Homo sapiens: one gene and its partners. The protein of the gene in region 3 purifies or fractionates together with the protein of the main gene of each other region. This does not show direct contact. Each region holds a gene or a part of one and is shown on either strand. Other genes may lie near its edges.

What was found.
Region 1: the proteins of SLMAP (region 3) and RABGEF1 purify together in Homo sapiens (affinity purification with mass spectrometry; 3 studies listed by BioGRID and IntAct, with this or other methods). This does not show direct contact.
Region 2: the proteins of SLMAP (region 3) and STRN4 purify together in Homo sapiens (affinity purification with mass spectrometry; 2 studies listed by BioGRID and IntAct, with this or other methods). This does not show direct contact.

Annotation. Positions count from the first base shown.
Region 1 is NC_000007.14:66,743,716-66,747,369, reverse strand, and holds part of RABGEF1 (rab5 GDP/GTP exchange factor), read right to left. Parts: intron 1-3,654. UniProt on the Homo sapiens protein: Rab effector protein acting as linker between gamma-adaptin, RAB4A or RAB5A. Involved in endocytic membrane fusion and membrane trafficking of recycling endosomes. Stimulates nucleotide exchange on RAB5A. Can act as a ubiquitin ligase.
Region 2 is NC_000019.10:46,739,816-46,743,469, forward strand, and holds part of STRN4 (striatin-4), read right to left. Parts: intron 1-3,654. UniProt on the Homo sapiens protein: Calmodulin-binding scaffolding protein which is the center of the striatin-interacting phosphatase and kinase (STRIPAK) complexes.
Region 3 is NC_000003.12:57,927,267-57,930,615, reverse strand, and holds the end of SLMAP (sarcolemmal membrane-associated protein), read right to left. Parts: intron 3,321-3,349; coding exon of another isoform or gene 3,228-3,320; 3' UTR 613-3,227; downstream 1-612. UniProt on the Homo sapiens protein: Associates with the striatin-interacting phosphatase and kinase (STRIPAK) core complex, forming the extended (SIKE1:SLMAP)STRIPAK complex.

The DNA of each region.
Region 1 (3,654 bases), on a different chromosome or scaffold from region 3:
TAGGGTGAAACAGCAGAGAATTTAGAGCCCTCAAAACTCTTGTTACATTCCTGCTTCAGAGATTTCAGCAATCTGCTCACTGTTACTGGGGGAAAATTAAAAAGCTTAATACTCTCTCAGTGTGTAATATTTTACGCATTCATGAACACATACTTATTCTAACTTCTGACTTTTAACCACATTTAATTAATTGATCATAATAATGGTATTTGGCCCTCTTAATGACCATTGCCAAGAGAGCTATGCTACCAGAAACAAATTAAAATGTTCCACTAGGGCCGGGCACGGTAGCTCACACCTGTAATCCCAGCACTTTGGGAGGCCAAGGCAGGTGGATCACCTGAGGTCAGAAATTCGAGACCAGCCTGGCCAACATGGTGAAACCCCGTCTCTACTAAAAATAAAAAAATTAGCTCAGCATGGTGGCGCGTGCCTGTTAACACCAGCTACTTGGGAAGCTGAGGCAGGAGAATCACTTGAACCCAGGAGGCAGAGGTTGTAGTAAGCCAAGATCGCACTATTGCACTCCAGCCTGGGCAACAAGGCTGAAACTCAGTCTCACTCCAGCAAAAAAAAAAATTAGCCGGACGTGGTGGCAGGAGCCCATATTCCCAGCTACTCAGGTGGCTGAGGCACAAGAATCGCTTGAACCGGGGAGGTGGAAGTTGCAGTGAGTAGAGATCGTGCCACCACACTCCAGCCTGGGTGACAGAGCAAGACTCTGTTCTCAAAAAAAAAAAAAAAAAAAAAAGGTTATATTATAAATAAAAATTGCACTTCCTGCCGGGCACGGTGGCTCACGCCTGTAATCGCAGCACTTTGGGAGGCCGAGGCGGGTGGATCACGAGGTCAGGAGTTCGAGATCAGCCTGGCCAATATGGTGAAACCCCGTCTCTACTAAAAATACAAAAAAAATTAGCTGGGTATGGTGGTTAACTACTCGGGAGGCTGAGGCAGAAGAATCCTTGAACCCAGGAAGCAGAGGTTGCAGTGAGCCAAGATCGCGCCACTGCACTCCAGCCTGGGCAACAGAGCAAGACTCCGTCTCAAAAAGAAAAAAAGAAAAGTAAAAAAAAAAAATCACACTTCCTATCCCACTGACAGTAACTTCATTGAAAACAGGAATTTCACAGGAAACTTCAAAACAGCACCATAAAAGTATAATGTTTTCCTAAAGCATTTTAGGAGCTTTATCCAAACATCAAAGAGATAAACATAAGTTAAATAATATTAAGTGGGATAACTGTTATTTCACATGTTTACATATTGTAACAATAGTCCAGATCATTTAAACTCACTTCAGCCATGTGAAACAACACACATGATGTTTCTACAGTGCTCTATGAAAGAAGTGTACATTTAATAAGATTTTCAAGATGTTTGGCCTGTACTATGAAACTTCTTTTTATAGAGACAGGGTATCACTCTGTCACTCAGGCTGTAGTGCAGTGGCTTGATCACAGCTCACTGCAGCCTGGAACTCCTAGGCTCAAGCGATTCTCCCACTTTGGCCTCCCAAAGCACTGGTATTATAGGCATGAGCCACTGCACCAGCCTGAAACTCTTGGTTTTAGTGTGATCACTTTTTTTTTTTTTTTTTTGAGATAGAGTCTCACTCTGTTGCCCAAGCTGGAGTGCAGTGGCACAATCTCGGCTCATTGCAATTTCCGCCTCCCGGGATCAAGAGATTCTTGTGCCTCAGACTCCCGAGTAGCTGAGATCACAGGCGCACATCACCATGCCTGGCTAAGTTTTTTGCATTTTAGTAGAGACGGAGTTTTGCCATCTTGATCCAGGCTGGTCTCAAACTCCTGGCCTTAAGTGATCTGCCCACCTCAGCCTCCCAAAGTGTTGGGATTACAGGTGTGAGCCACCGCACCCAGCCTATGGTGTGATAACTTTACTGATGGGCTAAGAAGCCACTCACTTGGTACCATTTCTATTCTGAGTCACAGGTGTTAGGTTTACACAGGTATTTCCTACATTTGAGGGATAGGTCATCTCTGCTAGAGATGTTTCCTCTGCAGCCAATAAAAACCCACATGCCAGAAATTAAGCTCACACAGTCAAGACTGAAATTCTATGTCTCTAGCCAAAGACTCACATAAGTAAACAGAATTTTAGTTCTATATGTAGACATCACAATGAGTAAGTACTGATATCATTTTTTTTTTTTTTGAGATGGAGTCTCGCTCTGTCGCTCAGGCTGGAGTGCAGTGGCACAATCTCGGCTCACTGCAAGCTCCGCCTCCCGGGTTCACGCCATTCTCCTGCCTCAGCCTCCTGAGTAACTGAGACTACAGGCGCCTGCAACCATGCCCGGCTAATTTTTTGTATTTTTATTAGAGATGGGGTTTTACCATGTTAGCCAGGATGGTCTGGATCTCGTGACCTCATGATCCACCCGCCTCAGCTTCCCAAAGTGCTGGGATTACAGGCGTGAGCCACCGTGTGCGGCTGATAACATTTTTTTCACTGAAAACCAGCAACAAAAAATCAAAGAAATCAATGAGTTATTCTTATCAAATCAGTTAAGTACTCATTAAACACTTGTGTGCTCAATTGGGGTTGAGAAAGCAAAGAGAGAAATGAATGCAGAATTCCTGTTTACAAATTAGCCAGGTCAGACATCCTTATAGAAAGAAACAACTAGGAAATGAGTATACATTCACGTCAAGCATCTTTTTTTTTTTTTTTTTTTTGAGACGGAGTCTGGCTCTGTCGCCCAGGCTGGAGTGCAGTGGCGCCATCTCGGCTCACTGCAAGTTCCACCTCCCAGGTTCACGCCATTCTCCTGCCTCAGCCTCCCGAGTAGCTGGGACTACAGGCGCCTGCCACCATGCCCAGCTAATTTTTTGTATTTTTAGTAGAGACAGGGTTTCACCGTGTTAGCCAGGATGGTCTTGATCTCCTGACCTCGTGATCCGCCTGCCTCAGCCTCCCAAAGTACTGGGATTACAGGCGTGAGCCACTGCGCCCGGCTATCTTTTTTTTTTTTTTGTAGAGATGCAGTCTTGCTATTTTGCCCAGGCTGGTCTCCAACCCCTGACCTCAAGCAATCCTCCCACTTTGGCCTCCCAAAGTGCGAGGATTACAGGCGTGAGCCACCATTTCAAACATCTAATAAGCAGAAAAAATTAAAATACAAGATAGCAGTAATTAGCTGGGCGTGGTGGCGCGCGCCTATCTATGGTCAGTCCCAGCTACTCAGAAGGCTGAGGCACACAAATCGCTTGAATCCAGGAGGCAGAGGTTGCAGTGGCCAAGATCATGCCACTGCACTCCAGCCCAGTCACAGATCAAGACTCCGTCTTAAAAAAAAAAAAAAGAAAAGAAAAGAAAAGAAAAAAGCAAATAATCAAGCACTACACTGAAAACATTTATCCTTATCAGCTACATAGCAGCCTGTGTGTAAGAGTTACATAAAATTCCATTTTAGGGCCGGGTGCAGTGGCTCATGTTTGTAATCCCAACACTTTGGGAGGCCGAGGCTAGAGAATCACTTGAGGCCAGGGGTTGGAGAGCACCCTGGGAAACATACAAGGATTCCATCTCTACAAAAAAATTTAGCCCAAGTGTGGTGGCTCACACCTGTAATCCCAGCACTTTGGAATGCCGAGGAGGGCGGATCACGAGGTCAGGAGATTGAGACCA
Region 2 (3,654 bases), on a different chromosome or scaffold from region 3:
TCCCCTCATGTGCTAGGTTCTGCTCAGTCAAGGCCTGGCACAGAATAAAGGCTAACAAATGCCAGCTTCTACTTCTTTCATCATTTTTATTCTCCCTGTCCATTGTTCGCAACTTCGAAATGGGCCCAGTTCCTTACGGGAGGTAGGATCCCTTGGAGACCCCAGATCAACTAGAAATGTCTGTGGATTGGCCAGGCACAGTGGCTCACGCCTGTAATCCCAGCCCTTTGGGAGGCTGAGGTGGGCAGATGACTTGAGGTCAGGAGTTCAAGACCAGCCTGGCCAACATGGTGAAACCCCATCTCTACTAAAAATACAAAAAACTTAGCCAGGCATGGTGGTACACACCTGTAGTCCCAGCTACTCGGGAGGCTGAGGCAGGAGAATCGCTTGAACCTGGGAAGTGGAGATTGCAGTGGGCCAAGATCGTGCCACTGCACTCCAGCCTGGGCGACAGAGCCAGACTTCGTCTCAAAAAAAAAAAGAAATACATGTCACCAGTTACCTTATAGAAAAGAAAACTCATCTGTCCGCTTCAAGAATGGGAAATTTTTTTCCTTTTTAACACTTTTTACCAACACATATGTATATAAACATCCAAGGCCAGACAGGGAAACTACTTATATGACATCAGCATCTCTGAAGCATGAGTTTCTGTCCTTTGTGTATCTTCTCAGTCCCCCAAATCTACTCTCTGAATCACTGGAGAAGGTGTGAGGAGAGGCAGACCGACCACCGAAGACAAGTCCTGACTTTCCTCCTCACTCTCCTCCCTTCCCTCCTGGGGTTTGGTGATTGATCCCTCAACCTCCCAGGGGCAGTTCAGCCTGCCGGGAACCTACACCTTGGTCAATACCTGCCACTGTTTGGTGACTGCCCACACACATCAGGTGCCCCAGTAAGGCGCTGGGGAATAACAGAGGAGCCATGTGGTTCCTGCACCCACAGGGCTCAGTCCCATGCAGGAGACAGGCATGAGCAGCAACTCACATGCAATGTGACTAGGACCCCATTGCGGGAGCGAAGGACGCTATGGGAAGAGGGACAAGAGGCGACAATTCAGCTAAGGCCTGAAGCTGAAGAGAAGTTAGCCAGGGGAGGGAAGGGCCCTGCTGGCAGAGGACGGAGACAAGAGCTGCATGGTGGGCTTAAGGAACTCTAAAAAAGGCCAGGATGGCTGCTTCAGAACCTGTAAAAGGCTCAGTGAAGCCATGGAAGGGTTTTAAGTACAGAGAGGTAACCGATTCGCATGTTATAAAGGCAGCTCCAGCTAAAACATGGAGAACTGACTGGAGGGAGTTCTGGAGGGAGACTAGAGGGAGGGAGCAGGAGAGCGGCAGAGCTGGACACAGAGACCCCCATCACAGATGAGGGCAGTCCCAGAAATCCCAGGACAGAACGGTAGTGGCTTGGACTAGGCCGGGGCAGTGGACACAGTAGTGGTCTATCTGTGGGGGCAGGAGGTGGAGTTGGGCATCCCAACCAGACCTGTCACTGGCTGGGTTCCCCCTTCATCCCTCTGCTGCCTCATCGAGCTGTGGTCTCCCTCCTCCTAATGAGGATGTGAGGGTCTCAGCTGCCCACTCTGCTTTGCTGTCCCTTTCCCAGTGCCTCTGGAAAGAGAACCAGAAAGACATGGTTGGAGCATCTCAGGGAGGTGGAAACCCACCAAAAACGGGAAGCGTCAGTGGCCAGTCTCTCCCTCGCTGCAAACGCCAGCAGCCCCCACGGGCTGTCTGGTCTGCGAGGGCCAAGGTAGGCCTGAGGGTCGGTCGGGGATCTGGAAGTGCCGCTCACCATATCCACCCACTGCCACTCCCTCTAGCCAGAGCCGCAGAGCATGCGCTCCCAAAACCTTCTGATACCTGGCAGCTACTGCCTCTCCGCCCCTCCAGCTATTCCCAGCAAGGCGACATCTAAAGGCTTCGGAGGAGTCCCAGCAATTCAGTCCTCCCAGGAGCTGATGCCTCTCTGAATTCGCTGCTTCCTGTCCCAGCTAGCTGGGAAGAGTCCCCGTTTCGTGCCATCTAGCCCTGCATCTCCTAAGGGCCTCCTTCCCAAGCTTCAGCAGCTGCTGGCAGGAATGGGCCCCCAGGAAGCTGAAGTGGGCAGGGGCAGCTCCGCACATTCTCTGCTGGCACCGCACTCACTGCAGGTCCCTGTCGCTGCTCCTATACAAATCTCCAGTTCAGATCCCTCATTAAAAGGTCCCTCCCATCCTCAAAAAGCTTCCCCTCTCAGAGTTGCCACAGAACAGGGGCAGAGCCACACAATCAACTGTGCATGAACATCTACAGCTCTGCGGTCCCCTGCACAAACAAGCTTCCTCTGCCAGCCTGGAAGTTTCGGATGGGCAGAAACCACGTTACTTACTTCTCAGAATCCCCCACCTAGCAAATGCCTGCTCATTATCAGACTGCAGCTCCGCCACCTTCCTGCTCCAAACTTATGGTGACTACTGGCAGGACCTCCCTGGGGGCTGCCTTCTCTGCCATTCAACACACAGGTACCAAGCAGGGTCGCACGGCAGGTCTTCTGCTAGGAGCAGCTGTATTAAGCTCTTCAGAGAAAAGTTATTCAGAGTCCATCAGGAAAATCTGACACTGCCTAGCTCTTAAGGGATCTCACAGGGGAAGTCACACCGTCTGTTAGCACTAAGTGTTCAAGTAAAGGTGTGTAAAAGAGGTGCCGCTGATGGGAGAGTAAACTGGTGGGTCAATGTGGCAGAGTCATTCACTGTTTCTTTTTTTATTTTTATTTTTTTTGAGATGGCATCTCGCTCTGTCACCAAGGCTGGAGTGCAGTGGTGTGATCTCGGCTCACTGCAACTTCTGCTTCCCGGGTACAAGCGATTCTCCTGCCTCAGCCTCCCGAGTAGCTGGGACTACAGGCGCCCACCACCACGCCCGACTAATTTCTGTATTTTTAGTAGAGGTGGGGTTTCACCATATCGGCCACGCTGGTCTTGAACTCCAGACCTTGTGATCCACCTGCCTTGGCCTCTCAAAGTGCTGGGATTACAGGCGCGAGCCACCGCGCCCAGCCCAATCACTGTTTCATAAACACATCCATTCTACTATTCCACTCATCTGTTCTGCTTCATTCTTGCACAGGAATAAGGGGTTCTCACTGCAGCCATGTCTGATGGGGGAAAAACTAGAAAAAATCTAAAAGTCCACCAACCAGGGTCAAACTCAATCAGCTATGGTGCAAACATCCCGTGGGACGCTATGCAGCTATCAAAAAGAAAGAGTTCTCTGTGCTGATATGAAAGGAAAACCAAAACAGATTATTATGTCACAAAATGATACATACAGCAGTAGTTCATCTATTACATAAGCACAATAACTCTTCTCTCTCAGGAGAGAAGAGCAGGAAAGGGACGAAGAGAAGGAACTTTCCTTTTTCACTTACATATATATGTGTATACACACACTCACACACACACACACACCCCTCTGAGATGTCTGAATTTTTACTAACTTAACAGAATAAAAGAAAACAAAAGTACAAAGTGACAGTGCTGGTACCATGCCAGACACAAGTTCCTCTCAAACTCCAAGAAGGGTCAGTAAGTGAGGGGATAAACATCTTTTCTCTCATCAGCCTCCAGGATGAGAAGATGGTGTGGTGGGTGCTGTGCGGTGCACTGGT
Region 3 (3,349 bases):
GGTTCAAGCAATTCTCCTGCCTCAGCCTCCTGAGTAGCTGGTATTACAGGCACCCACCACCATGCCCGGTTAATTTTTGTATTTTTAGTAGAGATAGGGTCTCACCATGTTGGCCAGGCTGGTCTCCAACTCCTGACCTCAGGTGATCCACCTGCCTCGGCCTCCCAAAGTGCTGAGATTACAGGTGTGAGCCATTGCACCCAGCCAAGACTGCAGTTTTAACTCAGTTGATTTGCATGCAGTTTTTTCTCTTTGGTAGCAGATTCCCATCCTTTTGATAGTAGATAGTCACTGGAAGCAGCCAAGAGTCACCAGATTTTGGTCAAGTGTAGTGATTAAAGTGAGAGATCAAGTAGGCAATACTAGTTTTGGTTGAAAGCCTCTGACTATAGGGCAACGTGAATGGTTTTCACATGTGACTCAAAGTGGCTCTAAAGGCAATAACAACAGGAATTCCAAAACCATTGTGGGCAATTGGTTCATCACCAAACCAAGCATATTACTTCCAAAAGAGTGAACTATGAAGGCGACAAACAGAGCTAGGTGATAATGCTTTCTCAGGATTCATAATGTTACACACATATCTCACTCATACACAGAAATTCTGAATGGTTGAGTCAATCAATTCATTTAATTAAAGTAGATTAAAGTTTAGGCTTACCTAAAACTTTAATATTTGCAATATTTTTTCAGTATGACATTCTCATAAAAACGTATTCACCACTCGAATGGTACTTCACATACATTATCTTTTTAATGTTCACACTACTACCACAAATATAAGTATTATTCTCCGCATGTTATAAATGAGAAAATGGAGACTCAGAGAAAATGTGATTTGCACAAGGCAACAACATCTGATAAAAGGTAGAACCAAGATGCCAATACAGATCTGTTTTGCTTCAAACACCACGTTCTTTTTATTCTCTAACCCTGCCATGTAGCACCTTTGAATAATTCTTAAATGTATCATTACAGGGTTGTTCAATTTTTAGCTGCAATGCTTAATATTTCTTAATGACTCTATTATTACCAGTGAATAATCCTATTCTTTATTTAACGTGGAAGTGAACTGAACAAAACTGAAGGTATTGCTTATGAACAGACTTATTTCTATTCTTGAGGAAAACTGGAAGTAACTACAAAAAGCCATTTATTCCACTTGAATGAAGTAAATATTGATACTAGACCTTACATTTAAAGAGACCAGTCTAGCAAGTGACTCTCATTTTAACAATAACCATATTAAAAGAGAAAAAAATAAAGCAGTAAGTTAAATAAAAGGTTAATAAAACTTGGAGGAAACAGCTCAGTGTTTTCTTTTAAACCCTGAAGAATACCAAATGTATGTTATGTTGCATAAAGAGTCATGTCAAGAGAAGACTATTAACAACCCAATAGTAGAGTCAGCATTAAGAACTTCAATGATATTCAACTCAAACATGCGTAGGGAGAGTAAAGTTATTTTATTAAATCATGCACGTCACGTGTGTTAGTGCAAATAGTTTAATCTGTACTCCAGAAATTCTATTGTACTTTATATCTTTACAAAATAGATTTAAAACAATTATTTACTTTAAAAAATGTAATTCTGAAGTTAAGCATTTCAGAACAATATTTGCAATAACCTATATACAAGAGGTACTGGGTACCACTGGCATATTAGCATTCTGTGGTGGAGTGGCTTCCTGCAACAGAAAATGATGAAATGAACTATATGACAGTATTTTCTACAAGTCATTTGTGACTAATTCCTCCATAAATCTAGTGATCTTCCCAAAAGCAATCTCAAATAGCTTAAAATATAACCTTTAAAGTATAAACAGTGACTGCCAAACATCACAAGGCAAATTATACCCTAAACTCCTATTTCAATATTTGGCTAGACCTGTGGATTGCCACAGAACATTCAAGCCAATTCACTGACATTCCCTCCCGGTCTTCACTGACTGAAAAATTTAACTATGTGATACTTTAGGATATTCTATGACCTAAATAAACTTTATTGACATAACTATGATGCCGCACAAAACCATGGCTAAACTTTCACTTGTGTTTTAAATTTATAATATCAAGCAGTGTTTTTAGGTGCTTCATTGTGCATAGAACACTATTAATCTTGGGAATAGTGCTTTTCATTAACAGAAAGTCCCAATTAACAACAATAAAAAGAAAATAACCATTTGCATACCCAACCAGGAAATTTGTTGGTAGGTACAACGCTCACCCTGAACATGAATTAGCTCTGACACATCATAAACCAAATTAGGTCAATACAAGCTTATCTAAAGAGATATTAATACTTTCTTCAATTAAACATGCTTGGAGGAATAGATGATAGAAAAAAAAAATCATGCTTCCTAAAATGCTGTATATGAGAAAGTAACTTGGCTTTTAAAGAAAAATATCTCTTTAAATACATGGTTTAATAAATTACATTCCAATTGACTCAACATTTTGGTTGACTGCACTGAAATTGTGTAATTACTATGTTTTTGCTCCCAGAAATACTTCAGTTTGCTCAAGAAAATACACTCTCATGGAAAGTTTTTCAAAGTTGATGTCCTCCACATCTTCAAGTCACATTAAGGCTGAACAAGCGTGCACATATTCCCCAAATTATCACCATAACAGTTTATTTTCCAAACGTATTTTTCCTTAAAAAAAAAAAAATCCACGCAAATAGTTGTCTCTAAGTCTTGTTCCCAATAGCTCAGTGGTTTCATAACAAGTAAAAATGGCGTAAATATGTAAAAAATATATATATGTGTATATATTTCAAACTGATAGGCACTGAGCACACAGGGCCTCTCTTCCCATGTATGTATTGGTTGTTTGGTTTGGGTAGTTATCAAATCAGAAAAATGAATTATCTGGTGATCAGAATTCAGAGTAAAATACTCATAAATTTAATGTTATAAATAATCTGGTGTACCAAGAAGCCTACTTTAGGCCACCATAATATTCAGAATCTTAACATACTAATTTAAAAATTACATGAAAAATTGCAAGCAAATTATTGCTTACAGTAGAATAAAGTCACAATTTTATATCTTCTTTATAGACAGATACATTTTATATAATTTAAAGCAATGACCCTACAGCTGTATTCTTGTACTTCTGCTGTTTTAAGAGGTAAAGAGGAAGAAAATGGTTCTGTTTGTCCCCAGCATGAGTGTGATGCCAGCTTCTAGAGGGAGGACGGTGTACGGACTCAAGGAACGCTCTCATGGAGAAGCTCTGGCCAGACCTGGCACGTACAGCACGATGGCTGTTACTGCAACCAGGGCAGCCAACATGGGCATCCAGGGCCAGGGTTTCTGTGTGGAAAGAAACCAAGAGTCAATAT